2 separate regions of the Homo sapiens genome follow, and region 2 is linked to region 1. A link means that fine-mapping ties the variant in region 1 to the expression of a gene that starts in the linked region. Tissue or cell type: subcutaneous fat. Region 1 holds a variant in brackets; the other region holds the start of a gene. All regions are shown on one strand. Distances are between the middles of the regions.

Region 1 (6,418 bases):
CGGGTTGAGATTGTATTGACGGATGAAGGGGAATGACGGAAGAATTCCTGCGGTAAAGTGCTGTGAAGACACTCCTGTTTTAGAAAGAGCTCTCTAGCCGCAGCAAGGAGGATTAACTGGAGGCCCAAGGAGTAGTCTGGACTTTGGGGCAGTAACTTTAGGGGGGCCCTGAGGGAGAGCTGGTCGCGAGGACAGGGACAGCAGGCAGAGGTTGTGGCCCACAGGGCAATCGCAGGAGAGGTTGTGAATAATTCCCAGGTGATGAGTGTGCAGCTTTGAGGAATTTCAAAGGGTTGCTTGGCGTCTTTTCCTGAAGACACTTCTATAAGGTATTTAGAAATCTATCAGGAGTGAGAATCAGTCCAGTCAGAAAATTTTAGGCATTTGGGCAACTGCATTCAGAAAACAGCTATTTATTTGGAATGCATAATAAAAGCCATGAGACTGAATCTCCATGCCTCTTTGCCCCCTAGTAGCCTTCAAGAAGTCTCTAAAACAGGGTTACCACAGATTTAGCCAGGATGATGTGTAGCAGCTTTTCTTGGAACAGGTTGATGGATTAAAATAACTTTTTTTCAGCTCTAATGTTTTTTTCTTGAATTTGCCAGTCACATGATAATTTTCTTCAAAAATAAAACTTTATAATTGTAATGAGGAACTGTCATTTATTCTTATAAGTTGTATTTTTAGAAGTCACTGATGTGTCTTGCTACATATTTCAATTCAGGATCCAGAAGTGCTTTGAAAAATGTCATCTCCAGTATGCTAGAACACATCTTAATATTAAAAACAAGGCTTTGGCTTTTAAAACCATTATGCAGATACCAAATATATATGTAATCTGACATTTATACTGAAGGCCAGTAAGTAGAGGACAGTTGATCCTTGAACAACACAGGGGTTAGGAGTGCCAAGCCCCCAAAACGGTAGAAAATTTGAGTGTAACTTTTGACTCTCTAAAAATTTACTACTAATAGCTTACTGTTGACATGAAGCCCTACCAACAATATTAATAGTCGACTGACATGTATTTTGTGTGTTACATATATACTGTATTTTTACAATGAAGTAAGCTAGAGAAAAAATGTTAAGAAAAAGAAAAATAATATTATTAAGTGGAAATGGAATCATAAGGGTCTTCATCCTTGCCACCTTCATTTTGAGTAGGCTGAGGGGGAGGAGGAGAAGAAGGGATTGATCTTGCTGTCTTAGGGGTGGCAGAGATGGAAGAAAATCCCCGTTTAAGTGGACCTGTATAGTTCAACTCTGTGTTGCTGAAGGGTCAACTGTACTTTTAAGGTAACATCTCACAGTAGGATTTATTTCTAGTTAAGCAGATGCACAAATACTTAGATCTCTCATTTTTCCCAAACAGGTATCTAAACACCATTTTATAGATAGCTGTCTACTAAAACAATAAAAGCAAAACTTCTGTTTTCCTGTTTCAGTATATTATAAGAAACGTTTATTTATGAGATGGAGTCTCACTCTGTTGCTCAGGCTGGAGTGCAATGGCACAATCTTGGCTCACTGCAACCTCTGCTTCCGGGTTCAAGCAATTCTCCTGCCTCAGCCTCCCGAGTTGCTGGGACTACAGGCACGCGCCACCACGCCCAGATAATTTTTGTATTTTTAGTAGAGACAGGGTTTCACTATGTTAGCCAGGCTGGTCTCAAACCCCTGACCTCAGGCGATCCGCCCACCTCTGCCTCCCAGAGTGCTAGGATTACAGGCGTGAGCAACGGTGCCTGGCCACTGATTCTTATTTTTAAAAGTGACTTAACACAGCTTGTATTGTTCCTTCCAGGGAGAAGATAATTATAAACATTAAGGAAGGAGTGTTAATTATTGCTGATAACTTACACAGCGTAAGAATGAACTGTAAGGATCTTGTTTGAACAAAGAATTGTATTTTGATCAGTCTTTATACTACATCTTGATACAGTTCTTTTTTCTAAGCATCCACTGTAGAGGAAGAAAGTGGTTAAAATACCTATTAATGATTGCAACTTATAACATGGATAGGAGACAGTCTTCCTTCAAGCTTACCAAAGAATCTCCATGCCATTTTGAGTAGTTGAGACACAGCCTCTTATCCAGACAGAACTAGTTTTTTGTGTGATAGCTTACCTACCTAAACCTGTCCCAAGTTTGCTTAATGAAATTGAAACCACATGAAATATCCAAAGCAAACCTAATAAAGGTGTTCTGCCGCTGACTCGGGCTGGACCCTTGTGGGGCTGTATGTATGCGACTTGGTAGGTGTTTGCCTTAAGTAGTCTGTTCTGTGGGGCTGAAGCATAGGCCTGGCCATCTCAAAGCCTAACATCTGTCAGGCCCAGTCTGTGACGTCACTGACAAGGGTGAGCATTTTCTTTGGGGCACCTTCAAAGTACCTTCACTGTGCATCTCTTTGGAGTGAATAGCACTGAAAGCATGATGAACTGTTACTGCCATTCAAAATAACTTTCTAGCTAAAGGTCAGGACTTAAACTAAAGGTTCAATAGTAAGACATAGTTATGGTAGCAAATCTATTATTTATTAATCAGATGCCAAACTATGTATTCATGGAAACCTAAAATTTGATGTGTTAATACACATCTTTGCATAATCTTTAAAAATTATTAAGGCAATAATTGGAATTAACTTCTTTTCTTTACGTTTGCATGGGAAGGCCGTATTTAATATTTAAAAGCATACACCATTTTTGAGCCCTTTTGCAGAGCCTTTTTAGATATAAAAATTAATG[C/A]ACCAATTAAAATGTTTATTCCTCTAATCACGTTCTATTACACTGTAATAGAGTTAGCCTAGTCTGAGATATATGTATTTGGAATTAATAGAATTGAAATTTTCAATACTCTGAAGCTCTTACCTTTGAAGAATTCTAGCCATCACAATCCCATTCAACATAAATGAGAGTGGTTTCATACACAAATACAAAAACTGGGACTGTTCTGTTTTCATGTATGTACTATTTTCTCCATAAGTGATTAAAGGTTTACATGTGATTTAATATTTAAACTTTGGTAAGATTTTTCATAGAAACAAGGAAAAATTTCCTTTGTCCGTGTACATATACAAAATTTGTTTGGTAAGCAGGGTTATCCTAAGTGGATACAAAGAGCTTCATCTAAATTAGAAATTTAGTCTCCAGTCATACTTATGACTCAGCAGGAGCCAATAAAATAAAAAAGGATTAAAATGTCTGAATTTTTAATTCAAGATGTTTTGTTCCAGAAATCAGAAAAATCACAGCCTCTGTATCTGGTATTCTGTCTGCTGGGCATCTCATGGAGTGACATTTCCGTACCCTCCAGTAGGAGAACAACAGATTCCCATACAACCTCTGCACATACTGAAAGTTCTTGACGTATGTTCTGAGCCATCAAAATAATCTCTATGCTGTGTAGATTGAAAAGTTGATAATAATCCATTCACAGTAGACAGGTTAACTCTACACCTAGAAAAACTCATTTCCTGACCATGCGATTAAGAGAACAAAACTACGATTTATTAGCTATACATAGTAAAATATGATTTTATCTGAAAAGGTGCAGGAAGTTTAAAAAGGAAAAAGGATCAAAAATGATGTGCCAGCGTGACACTGAAGTGGTCTGCAAAGTCCCCATCTGCATATTTGACCTGCACGCCCCAGGGTGGCTGATCCCTGTCTGAGGGTGTCAGCTAGACGCAGAGTGGATGATGCTGGTGGATTCTAAAGGAAGGTGTCATCTGTCAGGGACAAGGAGCCATGGTTATGCCACACAGCTGGTACCCAAAGGGGACTTCTGCTTTCCTTAGAAGAGGGTTGAAGAAAGGGTTGGTTAAAAAGTGAGATAAAAAGTAGCAGTGCGCCACACACTTTAACCTTGTGTGTTCTGAGCCACGAGTGTTATTTTTCAGATTGATGAGAGAATCAGCACGTGGTGTTCAAGCCTCAGCGGATAATGCCAACAGCTGCTTCATCCGGACAAAGTGATCTCTTTAATCACGTTTTTAAGAAGAAAGTACAGTGTGCACTTTGACAAAAATATTGCAGATTATGAAACGTGACTTTTAACATAAAAACAATTTGGGCAGTACAATAAATGCAAAACGTGCTGAGACTCGTACTGTGTTTGTCTACAGTTTTTATGTAAATCAATACCCTCACCGCCCAGATAAAACAGTACACCCCACCATAAAGCTGAGCAAAAGCTGAAAGAAATCTCTTCACAGACATTTTGTGAGCATATACACAAAACACATGCTTTTAAAAGTATTAGACTTTGAAGCCAATTTCTAGTTTGCTCATTGACATAACTGTTCCCAACAGTCTCCTCTCAGCATTACATATAAAGTAATAAACCCCGACTTTTCATTTATAGGTAGTTCAAATCAAATTTTGTTACAACCAACACCAAAGACCTATCAAAGATCCACAGTCACATTGGAACTTTGGTTGGATCAAGTGTTGTTTGGACGAACGAAAGCCTTTACAAAGGGCTACGGCTCTCTCTACTACAGAAATTTAGATTGTGACAATATTTAGATTGTGAAAATATTTAGTCAATACTCTCATAATGACTAGTGACTAGAATTTAAGAATTACAAAAAGAGGAAAGTATAGAAAAAAAGCTAAAGTCAAATTTATTTTTATTGCCTTTGTCATTCAACAAACAAAAAAAATTTAAACTGATAATAATTAAGATTTAAGTTTTCCTTTATACATAGTCATCCAAATTCTGTATGGATGAATTACTGAAAGCGGAATTTGGTCTACCTGCTTAACAAGAAGCAATATAAACATTTTCATGTTTTCTCCTTCAGTTCCAGAAAGTTAAACTCTTTATAATAGTTATAAACATAGGAAACTGGGAAAAATTAGGAAATTTATTCTTTAAGGTCACTTTCAATTTCTGTTGCTTTTCAGATTTCATACTGTAGCTTTTCTGAAACCTGATTTTTGGCATTCTCAAAAATCTACATCACATTTCTTGAATCATGTTATTATCATAAAATTTTATGTCAGTTTTAATTTGTGTTAAGCAGAATAAATGTATTTTTATATAAATATTTTCATTTAAAATAGAGATTTTTGGCACAGAGTCCTAAGCCTGTAGTTTTCAAATTGCATTCTGTGCTACTTTCCCTGAATCAAGGAATTGTGCTCCTATGAACTTGTACCTTGTGTATCTAACCTTTGCTCTGTCTCATGCTCAACAATCCAGCAGTATTCTAAGACTTTAGAACATGAGAAAAAAGTGTAGATTGACTTCTCCTTGCTGGTGGAGGTGGAGAAGGGGTGGAGAACAACTGCTGAGGATTTTTGTCTTAATATTTTCATGTTCTCCTCCTGATAATACTGTAGGCACTTGCATCCTTTGGGGTATCTTCAGTGGGAAATCAAAGGACTGTGAGTGGCTTCATTTAATTTCTACACTCAGAAATGCAGAGGCATGTTCCAGTCAAGTTTTAAAGAATTATTTAGAAAAAAAAAACAGGCCAATAAAATCTACAGTTAAGAGATAGAGAATCAAATATTAATCTTGAATGCTTATGTTCCACTTCTTTTCTTTCTGCTGTACTTTTAAAAAGTACTCTAATGAGTAGAATTCAATTTTATATGAAAATTCTGAGTTACTATATTATCGAATGGGGAGAGGTAACAAATTACAGACTAGTGCAAAACAGTAGGACTCCCACATTCTCCAAAGTGCTTCCTGAATAATATTCAAAACTTGATATCTCATCAACTTGTGCAATGTTAGAATATTGTGTCTACAAACTTTCTTCTTTGTCTGCTTGGAGCCTCTAACCTGGAGGCTCAAAATTCAAACAACACTCTACAGAAAAATTCTACTGAAGCAGGTGATCATAGATCAGCATAGATCACCTGCCTCCTCCTCCTAGTATTGCACAACATAAAACCCACCAGCAAGTTGTAACCAGGTGCTGCCCTGTGGCCCTACTTGCCACATGGACCCTCATGGGTGGAACTTCATCAAAAGCTGCTCCCAAATCTGTCAACACAGTAAGCTGGTGGATGTCTGGGCAACCTTTCTCTCTGCACCATTTAAACAAGAAGAAGAAATGGAATTTAGATGTCACCCCCAAACACACAGTAGACAGAGGAACAAGTTAAAAACCAGTAGACTCTCAGTAGTTCATAGGAGTTCTGGGGCCTCCAATCTGCACTGCAGGAGTCAGGCCATTCCTTCTGCATGACGTTCCGATTGTTTGCCCAGTTTGAGTCATAAGGTGTCTCTGCTTCCAGCTGTGCTCTTCACTTACCGGCTGCTCCATCGGGTCAGGACAGGGAAAAGCTTCCACGCTGAGCTTAGGAGTCACCCCCGAGCGCCATCCTTCACCCCTGGGAAAGAAAGCTGTTCTCGATACTTTTAGTGCCATTCACTTAACAACTGATTACAGATATAC
Region 2 (7,778 bases), 23 kb before region 1:
TTGCAAGTCATACATAATAAATCCACTCTGACATTGTCATTTTTCCAAAACTTTTGGAGTCCTTTATCCACATTTTGCCAGGAAAACTCTGGCATCTGAACATCATTAAATATAGGCCATCTTTGAGTCTAAATTTCAACCAACTGACTAAACTACTAGAGCTGCCTCCAGCTGCACAAGCTAACATATTACATCGGTATATGTTGTAAATGCATCTATACTAGTGAATTCTGCCTAATTTAGTGTTATATTATTCCCTTTTTTTGTCTGACACCCTTAGAAATCTCTCCCCCAGGTTTCTAAAGTTTACATTGATTATATATTAGCAGAGACTTCCAAATCTTTTATTATTATTATTTTTACACAGAGTCTCCCTCTGTTGCCAGGCTGGAGTGCAGTGGGGCGATCTCAGCTCACTGCAACCTCTGCCTCCCGGGTTCAAGCTCTCCTGCCTCAGCCTCCCAAGTAGCTGGGACTACAGGCGCGCACCACCACGCCCAGCTAAATTTTTTGTATTTTTAGTAGAGACAGGGTTTCACCATGTTGGCCAGGATAGTCTCGATCTCTTGACCTTGTGATCTGCCCACCCTGGCTTCCCAAAGTCCTGGGATTACAGGTGTGAGCCACCGCGCCTGGCCGTGACTTCCAATTCTTTTGGCGTGTATGAGATGTCCTCCTAGGTTATAATGTGTACCTGTCACCAGAGCATGCTAAAATTTCACCCTAGCTATGTATTTAGTAGCCACAGTGAGTGGTTTTAATGGGTTAACATGAGCAGCCCTTTCAAGGCGCCTTTCCCAGATGAGTTACTCACAAAATTTCAAGCACAAAAAGACTAGTTTCCTCAGCTATAGGAGAGCAAACTAGTTCTCCTGCAAAGGAGTCTCAGAATAACTTGGGGGTTCACGATTGACAGTTTCACCTGGATTCAATTATATGTCTTAATTCTAAGTATCAGTATTCCACTTCTCCCTATTCAGTGCCACCTCCCATGAGAAACTTTGCAACACTGAATTTAACAGATCTCAGAATTAGCAACCTACACAAGTAAATTGAGATTTTGAGCAAAATCTCAGTAAAATGTCAGAGTCTTCTTGATCCCACAGTGAAAGAGGAATAAATAACAAGTTCTAAAGAAAAGAGGGGCTAGTCACTATTGTTAACATTTATTACTTACCATGTGTCATGGGCTTTGCTAAGTAATTTAAAGGCATCTTTTGGTGTCATGCACTCACTTAATTCCTTTCACTGCACTCAGAATAAACCCCAAATCTCTGTTATGGCCTTCTGGGTCCTAAATGGTCTGCACTCCTGCTGACCTCTCAGTTTGATGAGGAAGTTTCAGCCACACATATCTTCTTTCCACTCTTCTCAGCTTACATGTCACCTCCTCCAAACTGCTTTTCTAAAGTAGCTCACTCCCCACCTCATTACTTTCCACATCAAGACCGTGCTTCTTTATATTATCACCATATTATTTTACTTATTTTATGCTTTTTCATTGCATGTTTAGTATTTTTATTTATGTTTATTTACTGCGTGCTTATTATTTTTACTCCATGAGACTGTAATCTCAACTCAGGCATAGACCATCTATGGTTTGTTCACATTGCACTGCACCAGAAAGGATCTTAAGAAGCATGTGTAGAATTCTCACACCTCTAGAAGTTGGACTACATTATTTCCTACTGCTTTTTAAATAGGCAAACGAAAGCTTGGAGAGCCACGTTAACGTATCCTAGGTCTGTCACAACCAACTGGTGGCCAGGGTCTGTGGATCTTCAAGCTGGAGTTGGTCACCTCCTAGCACAACTCCATAGGAGGAAGTGAAGCTCAATACAATTCCCTCCTGTCCTCCAACGATAGGGGCAGCAGGGTCTGTACCCAGAGGAAACAAAGAGCATCATCATTATCATCACAAACTGGTGTGTGCTTACCGTATTGATGATGTGCCCAGTCCCCACCTTGCCTGAGACCAGAACTCCCAGCCAGCACCGGCCACGCACCCGCGGAGCTGCCAGGTAGCACCCGCCCCCTCTCTCTGCGCAGGCGCGCGCCTCCTGCTTCCGCTCGGGGCGGGGCTGGGCTCCCGGGGTAGGTCCGCGGCTGCTGCTGCGTCCGACCCCCGGCCGGCGCGGGTATGGAGCTTGGGGGTCACTGGGACATGAACTCGGCCCCGAGGCTGGTCTCGGAGACCGCAGAGCGGAAACAGGAGCAGAAGACAGGAACCGAGGCGGAGGCTGCCGACTCCGGTGCCGTCGGAGCCCGCCGCTTCCTGCTCTGTCTCTACTTGGTGGGCTTCTTGGTGAGTGCGAGCGTGGGGGCTGGGAGCAAGTGCTGACTGTGTTCGGGCCTGGGGACCCAGGCGGTTCTTGGAGCTTCCGGGGAGCTCCCAGGGAGTGGGAACCCGCAGTCCGCCTGGTGAGTGCCTCACTACCTATCAAGCTCTCCTCTTGCCCTATCACCCACTTCAGTCTGCATCTGGCCACACTGCTTTATTGCCCCTCGCGCTTTCTCTTGCACCCCGTTCGCGGAACGTCTTCCCTTCCCTGCCTTTTGAGAAGCCCTGGTACCAACCTCAGGTGTGACCAGGTGTTAAATGCTGTGGCAGGTGCAGCTTTTGCAGGGCGGAGAACAGGGGTGTGGGCAAGCTTGGAAAAGCCCAGCTGCTGTGCGGCTGCTGGTGAGGTAGGGACACGCAAGCCTTTTTACCAGAACAGGCAGGGGAGGCCGCTCTTGACCCCGCTTGGACAGATTTAGGCACATTTTCACTAGGATTCTTGGTTGACTTAAATATTAAAAAATGCAGATCAGAGTGAATTTTACCCATCTGCCTTTCGACAAACTGCGCATTGCACAGCGTAGGTTTGGTTTCATCATGATGTGTGTGCCTGTGGTTTGCTTTTTTACCAGACCAGGCTGGAGAAGCCGCTGTTGATGACCCCACTTGTACAGAATTGGGTGCATTTTCACTAGAGCTCTCGGTTGACTTGAATGTTTAAAAATGCAGATCAGAGTGAATTGTACCCATCTACCTTTGGACAAAGGGTGTGCATTGCACAATGGCGGTTTGGTTTCATCGTGTGTGTGTGTGTGTGTGTGTGCGCGCGCGCGTGTCCTGGTTTGCTCCCTGAGTGCTAATTTCCCACGTAGAATGGAAAGTTTAGTAAGCTGATTCATGGCATTTCTGAACACCTGCCATGTGGCAGGTGCTGCGGAGCTTCACTATTGTAATCCACAGTTCTGCCACAGAAGAATTCAGTCTTACAAGTAAGCTGATGTTGGTAGTTTCTGGGCCATTATCTGCAAGAACCCTAGATCCACCTCTGCACTCCTCCCTTTCCAAGGCTAGGCCTGATTCAGCCCTGAGTGTGAGCTAATCCAGTATCTTGAGGGTAAGGAAGCTGCGATAAGTGTCAATGGGAGAAGGCTGCCTTTGAGGCCTTGAAGATAGTATCTGATGGCACTGGGCCCTGGCAGGGAGTCATCGTTTTCTGCCCAGATGCAGATCAAGACCACCACTTCTCCCAGTTTCATGCACTCTCCATGCCACCACCTCCATGCAAGGCGTTCAGTTGGTAGCAACTCTATGTTGAGTTAATAGTTAAGATCACCATGAAAGCATGTTCATCAAATTGCTGCAAGCCCAGAAACACAAGGTCTTCAGGGAGGGCGGCTTTTTAGAGAGGATTTCTCTGCCTCTAGGCCATTGCAGGATCCACCCTCCAGCTCCATGCCTTTAACTTCAGAGACTGGCACTCCTTCTGACCACTATTCCTTTAATCTAGTAGTTCATTCTCAGCATGGGGATGCTTCTTCTACTTTTCAGTCTAGGCACCTAGAATTCACAACCAGTGAGTATGGGTGGTTCTTGGAGAGGAGTTGGCTGACATCCAGCCTTTTTAGTTATGGGTCCCAAGCTACTGCTGTCCTGTCTCAGAAGGGACTTGGGCTGGTTCAGCCAGATGAAAACATTTGAGCCCTTACCTGGAAAGTCCAGACTAGGGTTCAGAGAATTTGACTTAGAATTCAAAGTAGTTTTAGTATTAGAATAAAACAAAGCAATTCGCAGATCATTTGTTAAGGTCAGCCTTCCAATACAGATTTGAATATTCACAATTTATCATATGTTTTCTTTATGCTGTGTATTTGGCAAGTCTAATCTAGCAAGCCTGATACAGAATTTTAATAACTTTAATAATGTATTCAAGAGAACCATTAGGTGTCTCATATCTTAAGGGAAAAGTTTATGGTTTCCCAAAAGTTGAAAGAGTAGGGATTTTTTTAATGGAAAATATTGTAAACAATTAAATATATGAAGCTTTACATGAAAGTCACATAAAGCTACCTAACAGATGATTGTTAGGTAACATCTAAGGAACATTATACATAATTTAGTTTTTTTTTGACATATTTAGGGATGTAGAGACCTCTAAGATTCTTGGACAAATGGTTTCTGAATGGGAGAGGAAGGGAACAAGCTTAGAGAAGTCATTTGCCAAATTGTTCTGTTTTAGCAGTTATCCGTACTTCCAAGTTTTAATTTGTTTAGGAGGGAAGACCAAGATGACCCTTGAGGCCCGTTTTGTTTAGGATGCTTAGATGGTGATGAGATCTATTATTTCAACCACTTTTTTCCTCCAGATACTTGGTGAGATTTGTTTTCCATCCCATCAGCTTTATTCAGGTGATAATTCATTTTCATTGAGATAGTCCAGTAATCAATAATTACTGGGGTTCCTACCCTGAAAAGAGTCTTGAAACTTTTGAGTGTACATATTCATCAATTTTTATTGAAAAATGTTGATATTCAGTGAAAGTTTAAGTGGCCCCTTCTGACATGATCTTTTTACAAGTGGTTACATGCACATGACCAGATGCCAAATGCAGCGATTTTGAAGAAGCTATGGATTGAGAAGCAGAAAGGAGTTGCCTTTTATAGTAAAGGAGAAGGCAATTTTAGAACAGAACTTCCTGAGAGGAAAGATTCAGTGGCCAGTCTCCTTGGAAGAATATAGTACTTTTCAGACTCACCAAGTGCTAAAGTAATACCAATCATCAGTTATTGCCTTTGAGTCTGTATTTTCATACTTACCTTCCATAGAGCTCAGTCTCTTGACCTAAATATTTCTCTCCATCTCTTATTTAGGATACCCATTTTATTAAATGATATGTTGTACTGGGACTTTTTTTTTTTGGAAAAAAATGGTTATTGGACAATTGAGTTTCCTTTTCTGAAAGATCCAGAAGATTCAATAGGTGGCTGGTACATTTTGAGTCTTTTAAATGTGTAAACATCAGTGGGCTGATGAGATGCAACTGACAGCAAAGCCCAAAAGAAATGGACTCAGACCCAAAGGAAATTTTAAGTAATGGCAATATTGAAATAATAAACCATCACTCTGGTAATGTAATTTTAAGAGCTAATTATAGTCACTTGATATTAGATAACAGGGTCATCTAAAGATGTAACCATGGAAAAGGCCCACTGAAAAGAGTATGTGGAAATTTATGTATCTATAGTTATATGAATGTACAGCTACCAGGACAGGGAAGGGGGAACAAAAGATTAACTCTGAGCTCAAGGAAAATACATATTTCATGCGAGTTCTTTCTTTCCAACTAACCAGCTGTATGAAAGAAGGAATTCAGGTCGAATATAATGAAAACTGTGTGTGTGCAATGTTTTTTCTCCCACTAAACCAACTGTAGCAGGTAACCTAGTGAGAATAAGAACAAAATTAAAAGAAAAGTTAACAGTCTGTCTATTAACTCAGAATACCTAGCAAAAAGGACCTGTCCTTATCCCCAGAACTGAAGAAGGGAGAAGACATGTTTGAGCTTACATTGTTTTATTAGGCCTTTCTCAAGCATTATGCCACTTAATGCTCATCATATTTCTACCAGGCAGGTATTACTGTTCTACCCTTTGCAGATGACAGCACGGAAGCTTGGTAACTTTAAGTAGCTTTCCAAAGACACATGTTTAGTAAGTGATGGAGGTGGAATTGAGAACTGTCTGCCTGACCCCAAAGCCCATTCACTTTCTATGACTTAGCTGCAAAACACTGGCCTTTCCCTAGTGCACCAGCTTCTTCCTTCTTGCTTTACTGAGCCTTTCTTCTCAGGTATTATTTTATAAGCTTATAAACTACAGGTCCTAGGACATTAGCCACTTTCGCCAACTCCAGAAGGAAACATATTTTTAAGCAAGTGCTGGTTCACCAATAAATACAAATTATGACTGCATTTTTTCTTATGACTTATCCACAGAAAATATGGGGTTTTTTGTCTGTTTTGTTTGAGGAACTTCTGTAGCATATCCTCCTTGAGTGTAAAGTTAAAACGGATCCCAGGTCAGACTAATCCAGGCATTTGCAAGTGGCAGCGGATTTGTATGGCATGCTATGGAATCCAATTATGATTTCTTACGTGTTTAAAATTTTAGATATTGGTTTTATTTTTTAAATTAGTTTAAATTTTTAGGTTTACTAGTTTGAAAAATACTAATTTGAGTCCATCAGCATTTATTTTGTTTTAGGATTTGTTTGGTGTCAGCATGGTTGTGCCTTTATTGAGCCTTCATGTCAAGTCCCTTGGAGCAAGTCCAACAGTTGCTGGAATAGTAGGTGAGTGGTCGATATTGCTCATTTTTAGAGCACTGAATTTTAAATCCTCTGAACCAAGTACCTGAAAACAATTCAATTTTGTATCCAAATATTATCCAAAGGTAAGTGGGAAATGAGATAAAACAAATTTCCAGAATATTTTAAAATATTACCCTATAGCAAATGCAATTCCTTTTTTTCTAGACGACGTATGTTCAAAGAGATTTTGAGATTTGAGCACTATAACCAAGTCCCATGCCACTAGTGGCAACAGGTACTTATGGAGCCTCTGCAAGGAGCTGGCTGTGTGTATAAAAGGGTAGGTACATGTGGACTCCTGCCTACAGGAACCCTTAACCTAATGTGAGAGACCAGGGAAACATAATCTACAGAAATCACATCTCGTGGGAAAGGGTTTCGGTGAACATTAGCCAATTAGTTGCAAGCTTCTCACACCGTCACCAACACATCATAGATATTGTAGAGTTTCTCTGCCTGTGCAGCTTAAAAATTCCATCCAGAAGTCATTGATTTACCAAAAAGGCAAGAGACAGCAGGGCTTAGGACTATGCTAACTAATGGGAAATTGTTGAGACTAACAGCTCTTGATCATTCACAAGCCAAACAAGCAAGTGTTTGTGGACAGTCTTGTACATAATATTTGTTAAATCATGGTCCATGCCGTGATTTGTATTTCCCTCGACAAATGTACTTGGAATTACACTGGACCACCCAGCAGTGTGAAGGTTTTTGGGAAAATCAGATAGGGCACATTGCATGATAATGGAGGTAAAAGAGCTCTGTAAAAAAAATATAAATTCTTTATAAAATAAATCATTTTATAAAACCAGTACACATTAGAAATATAAGAGACAATGTTAAGATTTTAAGGCTTAGTAGGGTTTTTCCAGAATTTAAATTTCTATTCCCCTGAGTACTCTCTATGCTGTTTCATAAGTTGAAGCTACACAATCTCATATGATGGAAGGACAATCATACAGCGTCCATAACGTCACCTTTTGCCTTTTTTCTCTCTTCTGTTTACCCTCAATTTTTTGAAAACCTTTTGTTAGAAATTGTATTACTTCCATTTTGTTAGAAATTGTATTACTTCCATTTTTCCAAGTAGAAAAAAAAAAGATGTGAGATAATTTAAAACAAAAAGGTATC

Which allele goes with the higher level. Positions count from the first base shown, and alleles are read on the strand shown. Sizes are in standard deviations (SD) of each study's normalised expression.
With allele A in place of C in region 1, the expression in subcutaneous fat of the gene that starts at base 2,063 in region 2 is lower (small effect, 0.17 SD a copy in GTEx).

The links. PIP is the estimated chance that this variant, and not a neighbour inherited with it, causes the effect.
Region 2: SLC67A2 starts here. The variant in region 1 is the best candidate, but not a certain one, in a credible set for the expression of SLC67A2 in subcutaneous fat (GTEx, PIP 0.51).

Annotation. Positions count from the first base shown.
Region 1 is chr2:102,708,863-102,715,280 of GRCh38, reverse strand. It overlaps SLC9A2 (solute carrier family 9 member A2), which reads right to left. Exons shown (of 12, transcript NM_003048.6): 12 at 3,926-6,418. It overlaps SLC67A2 (solute carrier family 67 member 2), which reads left to right. Exons shown (of 6, transcript NM_032718.5): 6 at 1-651. Among named protein-coding and RNA genes, the nearest start is that of SLC67A2, 25 kb to the left of the region's middle. The variant C/A (reference allele first, on the strand shown) is at 2,751.
Region 2 is chr2:102,731,173-102,738,950 of GRCh38, reverse strand. It overlaps SLC67A2 (solute carrier family 67 member 2), which reads left to right and starts at 2,063. Exons shown (of 6, transcript NM_032718.5): 1 at 2,063-2,305; 2 at 6,542-6,629. The coding sequence starts at 2,141. It also overlaps a transcript of TMEM182 not described here. RefSeq lists a silencer at 1,947-2,156.